Linked DNA regions of Homo sapiens. The protein of the gene in region 1 purifies or fractionates together with the protein of each later gene. This does not show direct contact. Each region holds a gene or a part of one and is shown in the gene's direction. Other genes may lie near its edges. The genes, in order: SCLY and PAK2.

Evidence for each region.
Region 2: the proteins of SCLY (region 1) and PAK2 fractionate together in Homo sapiens (co-fractionation; one large-scale study listed by BioGRID). This does not show direct contact.

The regions. Positions count from the first base shown.
Region 1 is NC_000002.12:238,081,202-238,085,021, forward strand, and holds part of SCLY (selenocysteine lyase), read left to right. Parts: intron 1-507; coding exon 508-635; intron 636-843; coding exon 844-1,008; intron 1,009-2,046; coding exon 2,047-2,153; intron 2,154-3,820. UniProt on the Homo sapiens protein: Catalyzes the decomposition of L-selenocysteine to L-alanine and elemental selenium.
Region 2 is NC_000003.12:196,826,830-196,830,294, forward strand, and holds part of PAK2 (serine/threonine-protein kinase PAK 2), read left to right. Parts: intron 1-366; coding exon 367-504; intron 505-1,489; coding exon 1,490-1,576; 3' UTR 1,577-3,465. UniProt on the Homo sapiens protein: Serine/threonine protein kinase that plays a role in a variety of different signaling pathways including cytoskeleton regulation, cell motility, cell cycle progression, apoptosis or proliferation.

The DNA.
Region 1 (3,820 bases):
CAGTGGATACATTTGTTTTTCACCATTTTAAACTCAAAGCACTAAAGCTAAACAATGTAGTCCCCTCTGCTCATTTTCCATCTGCAGTAGTGAGACTCTCAGTGCCCGGGGCAGTCAGCGCCTGGCGCGTAGGAGCGGCTTCATCAGCACTGGCTCGGTGCCAAATGCATGGCAGTGAAGTGCTGTGCACTAGGACCCTCCCCAAAAGCAAGAGCCTGCATCCCTGTTGCCTCTTCCTCTTCCGTCTCCGTAGAAGCAGAAAGGCACACAGCTTCCACGACACAGATTCACTGACTGCAGCCGCGTTAAAGACACGTTCACACTGAAGCACCTGACAGTGACTCTGGGCCAGTGATGATGGGCGGCTTATATTCTTCTTTATAGTCTTCTGAACTTGGACAACAATTTACTTTTATAGTTGTAGAAAACTGTTAAGCTCTGTTGGAACGCAGTTTTGAGAGGAATCAATTTGTGCAGCTCAGTTCGGTACTCATGTTTGTTTCCCAGCGGTCACCTTTGTCCCGGTGTCCAAGGTGAGCGGGCAGGCAGAGGTGGACGACATCCTCGCGGCAGTCCGCCCGACCACACGCCTCGTGACCATCATGCTGGCCAACAATGAGACTGGCATTGTCATGGTGAGTCGGCCTTTGTTTCTCTTTAAGGAGAGCTCATGGGGAAGAACAGCAGCTTAGACTCATGGCGTTTCAGGTTTCCCAGCTCTGGCCTCTCCCGTTTCTCTGTTCACTTTGATAACATTTGGCCTGCGCTCACTACTCCTGATTTCTGTCATTCAGTTTTCATCAGATCGGAGCAACATACTCAACTGTTTCCTTTCCCCGTCAGCCTGTCCCTGAAATCAGTCAGCGCATTAAAGCCCTGAACCAGGAACGGGTGGCAGCTGGGCTACCTCCCATCCTCGTGCACACGGATGCTGCACAGGCCTTGGGGAAGCAGCGCGTGGATGTGGAGGACCTGGGCGTGGACTTCCTTACAATCGTGGGGCACAAGGTAAGTCTGCAGAGGCTTCCTGCCTCTGTGGGCAGAGCCTACTGCGCAGGTGGCTGTTTACTCCTCGGTCCGTAAGCCTCACTGCCCACCGTGAGCCAGGCCTTGGGGGCACTGCGAGGAGCAACGTGGGATCCTTGTCCTCAGGAGCTTTAAGAGGGGAGCCCCACATGGCCAGCATGCCAGGACGAATGCCATGGCAGGGATGATGGGGGGGGTGCCCAGCCCACATGGGGCAGGGTGGGGGCGGTAGACCAAGCTAGGGGAGGAGACGTCGAGATCTCAGGGAGAGTAAGGCAGGGGGTTCGGCCAGGCAGCGAGTGTCTCTGCAGCGGACAGGGCATCTGCAGAGGGTGTGGGGTGGAAGATGTAGGGACAGGAAATCGTTGCTTTCTCTAATGTGATTTCAGATGCGGCTCCTCAGCAAAACCTTTGCAGCTATCTTTAAGGTGGGAGTATGGGGAAAATAGTTAACAGTGAAGACCCTTCTGAAAATTTTGCACATCTTTCTGGCAGCTTACCAGGGCCCGAGATATTTTTAGTACTCAATTTTGAAGCACAGTCCTCAGCTGGTTTCCAAAGGAGTGTCTATGCTGGCCTGACACTGGCACTCCAGAGTTCTGCATTGTGTCAGTTGGAAACATGGAATCATTTGCAGGAAAAGCCCTGGCCAACCGCTGGTTCCAACCCCTCTCTATTTATGCATTCTCTTTCTTTTTTTTTTTTTTAAACCTGTGATTCATATGATTTGAGATCCTTTTACAAATTCTATCACATGATGCGCAGGGGAGAGCTGCCTGCCACAGAGCTGAGCACGAGAGTCTAGCACCTGCGCTGCCTCCTAGGTTGGGGTTCCACCCTGCCCCGAAGGCTTTTGTGACTCTGCGTGTCAAAAGGGGTGGCACTCAGAGGCGCCACAAGGAAGCAGCAGGACTATGCATTGCAGAGCATTTCTCCTGTGTGCCCCTAAGCACTTAGCATGTATACAGAGTAGGTCCTTGGAAAGTTCTTGTTGAATAAATGACCAACTTTTCCTTCCAGTTTTATGGTCCCAGGATTGGCGCACTTTATATACGAGGACTTGGTGAATTTACCCCTCTCTACCCTATGCTATTTGGAGGTGGACAAGAACGGAATTTCAGGCCAGGGTAAGGCAGAAAGTTAACAAAGTCTCTGACCTACTGACCGTGTCATTTGTAGAGCAGTGACATTGTAAAGAAACATGGCGCTGTTTCTTGGTCTCGTGGAGGCTCTGTAGCATGTCCACACTGCTGCTGTGTCAGAACTGGCTCCACTGATTGATTTTACACTGAGGGCTCACAGGACCTGCAGTCTCTTTGGGAATGATTGAAAGCAATGAAGGAAATCTCTGTTTCTTTTAACTGCTCCAATGCATCCAATTCCCCTTGTAATTTTGGCCCAGCCCACTGAAGAGAACTGTTGGACCCTTCATGGCTGAGGCCTGCTGCTGTTTTAACTTCGGGGATCAGCAGGACCACACAGAAGCACTGGTCTCCTTTCTGATAGCTCCTGTGTCCCCTCTATGTATAGTGACGTGTTAACTGGGAAATTAGTTGTTGCCCCCACCACACCTTTTGTTAGAAACTACTTAACAAGAGAGAGAAACAGGAACAGCATGGTGGTGAGTTCCTGGGTTTTCTTTTCACCTTGTGTATCCCACACTTAGTGCTGAAGAAGCCGGCAAACCTGATATGCTAGTAAGGGCAGACACAAAAATGCCCCAACCAAAGCCTGTCCTCTCTAGCCAGTGGACCAGGAAAGGAATGGCCTAGCAAGACAGAAAACTTTGAGACAACACTTGCTTTACTCCAGCCAGATGCTACAGGGGAAATTGTGCTGCCACGCCTATCCACACCTGCAAAGATGGAGTGGGAAACCCAGACTTCCACCAATACAGGCTGTAACAAGGTATCCCACACCACCACCGGGTGTGTCAAGAAGGCCAGGTAGAGAACCGGGACTTAGGCACTCCCACCATGGTGTCAGTAGAGACCATATCGGGATCTTGGACCCACACCTGTCAGTCACAGGGAGCGTCCTCCCATTGGGTGTCAACATCAGCCAAGTAAAAAATCTAGATGTTGGCCAGGCACAGGCTCATGCCTGTAATCCCAGCACTTTGGGAGGCTGAAGTGGGCAGATCACTTGGGGTCAGGAGTTTGAGAGCAGCCTGGCCGAGATGGTAAAACCTTATCTCTACTAAAAATATAAAAATTAGCCAGGTGTGGTGGCGCATGCCTGTAATCCCAGCTACTTGGGAAGCTGAGGCAGGAGAATTGCTTGAACCCGGGAGGCTGAGGTTGCAGTGATCCGAGATGGCACCACTGCACTTCAGTCTGGGTGACAGAACAAGACTCTGTCTCAAAAAAAAAAAAAAAAAAAAAAAGCCCAGCACGGTGGCTCACTCCTGTAATCCCAGCACTTTGGGAGGCCGAGGCGGGTGGATCACAAGGTCAGGAGATCGAGACCATCCTGGCTAATATGGTGAAACCCCATCTCTACTAAAAGTACGAAAAATTAGCCAGGCGTGGTGGTGTGTTCCTGTAATCCCAGCTACTCGGGAGGCTAAGGCAGGAGAATCATTTGAACCCGGGAGGCGGAGGTTGCACTGAGTCGAGATCGCACCACTGCATTCCAGCCTGGGTGACAGAGAGAGACTCCATCTCAAAAAAAAAAAAAAAAAAGAAACCTAGACTTCTACTTCCACTTGGCAGTGATGGTGGCATACCCCTTCTCCTGCCAGCACAACGTCAGAAAATGGCAGCCCAAACAGAAAGATTGAATAAGATCCAGG
Region 2 (3,465 bases), on another chromosome or scaffold:
AAAGTCACTTGAACCCAGGAGGCAGAGGTTGCAGTGAGCCAAGATTGCACCACTGCACTCCAGCCTGGGTGACAGAGCAAGATTCCGTCTCAACAAAAAAAAACAAAACAAAAGCAATATGTATTGCATTTATAACCGAAGAAAAACCAAAGGTGAATCTGATTTCAGAAAAGTAACTTAAGGAAATGTAACATCTAAAAATAAGAGGAAAGTATCAAATCTAAATTTAAATGGGATAATGATAACCCCAGTTTAGTATTTATGGTGATTTTCTTTAAAGAAGAAAGAATCCCTTAGACTTTATGGAGTGCTCTGTGACCGTGTTGAGCTATCTTAAGTGGATCAAAGATGTTCTTCTATTTTTAGGCCTTGTACCTAATAGCAACTAATGGAACCCCAGAACTTCAGAATCCAGAGAAACTTTCCCCAATATTTCGGGATTTCTTAAATCGATGTTTGGAAATGGATGTGGAAAAAAGGGGTTCAGCCAAAGAATTATTACAGGTAAATTTAAAAATGATTTCATTTGGGGGAATAGTTGACTTTTTTGGTAACCGACAGAAAGCTTTCCTAGGGCTAATAAGTAGATTTCACTACTCATTGATCACCAGCGGTATGGCAGCTGCTGCAATTTAGGGTTTCATCCTACCATGCTGAGCAAACTACCGCAAGGACAGAAAACCAAACACTGCATGTTCCCACTCATAGGTGGGAATTGAACAATGAGAACACCTGGACACAGGAAGGGGAACATCACACACCGGGGCCTGTTGTGGGGTGGGGGGAGTGGGGAGGGATAGCATTAGGAGATATACCTAATGTAAATGATGAGTTAACAGGTGCAGCACAGCAACATGGCACATGTGTACATATGTAACAAACCTGCACGTTGTGCGCATGTACCCTAGAACTTAAAGTATTAAAAAAAAAAGTGAGGGTTTCATCTGCTGTGAATAAAATTCTGACAAAACCGTAATGTGCAGTTTGTGCATCGTATCAATCCTCAGACCTGTTTACAGTTTGTGCATCGTATCAATCCTCAGACCTGTTTACAGTTTGTGCATCGTATCAATCCTCAGACCTGTTTACAGTTTGTGCATCGTATCAATCCTCAGACCTGTTTACAGTTTGTGCATCGTATCAATCCTCAGACCTGTTTACAGTTTGTGCATCGTATCAATCCTCAGACCTGTTTACAGTTTGTGCATCGTATCAATCCTCAGACCTGTTTACAGTTTGTGCATCGTATCACTCCTCAGACCTGTTTATTGCTGTTGTGTGTATATTTGTCAAACTAAAATGATTCTGCTTTCATTCAACTCTGAAAGTAATGCGTTGATTATGTTAGTCTTATGAAGGTATTAATATGTGTTTAGTTTATTAAATTATGATCGACAAGTAGTCTTTGGGGCTTAATTGAACAAAATTATTTTGTTTCTAACCTGATGAATGGCACTTATACATTTATTTTTCCCCTTCTTTCTGGCAGCATCCTTTCCTGAAACTGGCCAAACCGTTATCTAGCTTGACACCACTGATCATGGCAGCTAAAGAAGCAATGAAGAGTAACCGTTAACATCACTGCTGTGGCCTCATACTCTTTTTTCCATTTTCTACAAGAAGCCTTTTAGTATATGAAAATTATTACTCTTTTTGGGGTTTAAAGAAATGGTCTGCATAACCTGAATGAAAGAAGCAAATGACTATTCTCTGAAGACAACCAAGAGAAAATTGCAAAAAGACAAGTATGACTTTTATATGAACCCCTTCTTTAGGGTCCAGAAGGAATTGTGGACTGAATCACTAGCCTTAGGTCTTTCAGCAAACAGCCTATCAGGGCCATTTATCATGTGTGAGATTTGCATTTTACTTTGCTGACTTTGTTGTAATAGATCCCATTCATTGTCCCCTTTGGGGTATTTCCAATACTTGAATGGCAGATTGGAGTTTTTCAGAGTATGTGTTTCATCTGCTAGTCTTTCTCTCCTTCATAGCTTTTCTTTTCCTGGACTTGCTCCTTTTGAGTTGCTTTTGCGTTTCTCATGCCTAGGCAAGTGTAATAGAAATTATGTAGCTCCTTATGTTGGCAAAGGAGCTCTATATAGTTTCACTTTGTATAAAAGTTAGGACCAGCTGTTGTTACATGTAATATTTTAGTTCAGAACTTGACCTGAAGGAAGGGAAGAAAAGTATGTGATTTTTACCTTTTTTAACAAATGTGAAAAAGTCAGTTTTAGAAATTTCGTGGTAGTAAGTTCGGCATTTGTTACATGTATAGAGAGAAGACTAATAATCTCTATTTATAACTAAATCATTGAGATAGAAAAAGATTCCCATTGACTGTAGACTTCTTCCCATTTTGTCTTCCCTTCTGCCTGTTTCCCCTTCAGGCTTGGCTCTAGGAACCAAAGTGATTTGTTGTTGTTCCAACCTGGGCTTTGTGACTTTGGTTAGTGCCACTACCTTCTTCCCTCCTTTCCCCCTTCAATTTGGAAATAAATTTCTGTATATGTTGCAATTTTAGGTTTAGGTTTGTTCTTTTTCTTTTTCATTAATCCTCTCTCACCTCACAGATACCCCCTCCCATGGCAAATAATATAATAACCAGTGAATTTTCAGGAATTTAAAAATTAGCTTTTTTCCACTTAAAGGAGAAAAATATTTGGGACTAGCAGCAGAGGCAGTAAGAGATGTGAACCTTGGTGAGCTCTGATACAGTGAGAAGAGATTATACTCATGAAAGAGAATGTTAGTGTTACAGAGAAGCAGCCGATAGCAAATCGACTGTAGAGACTTGGCGGCGGTGGCATTGCCCCAGGTCGTCAGCAGTGTGGTATTATCTATGAGAACTTGAGCGACAGAGTATTTCTTGATGAATTTATAGATCATTTGAGATGTTGAGTTACTTTAGTTTAGTTTTGTTTTGTTTTTTCAAATAAGTAGAGACTATTGTAAAAAACGAGAAAGGAAAATGAAATGTGCGTGTTGATAGCAATAATTTGTTTCTTTTAAAGATTCTAAAAGGTCTGAGACCTGTAGCATTAATTATTTGAGTGCCCTCCCTTCTCCCCTCCCCTCCCTTTTCTCTTCTCTTTTTTCCTCTCCTCTTCTTCTCCTTTATTCATTGTTTTGCTTTTGGAGTGGGTGTTGTTCAAGTATCTGTGGTTTGGTTCTGGCATTTTGTTCCCACCATCCCCTTCCCCCATTAACTTCCCCCCTGCTTGCCATCCTGCAGTAGTATAAATCATGAATAAAAAATAATTTTGCTGTTGTAGTATACATTGGAGAAACTGGCAGGTTTTATTTCCATTATTTTATTTCCACTATATCTATGATAAGATGCAATTATAAGGAGAGAAGTGACTGTTTTTTATTGATAAGGCAAGATTTTCAGAAAAATGAGTAAAATAATTAATGAAACATATTTAGAGCACTTAATGGTCTCTGTTTTCAATATAATTCTTG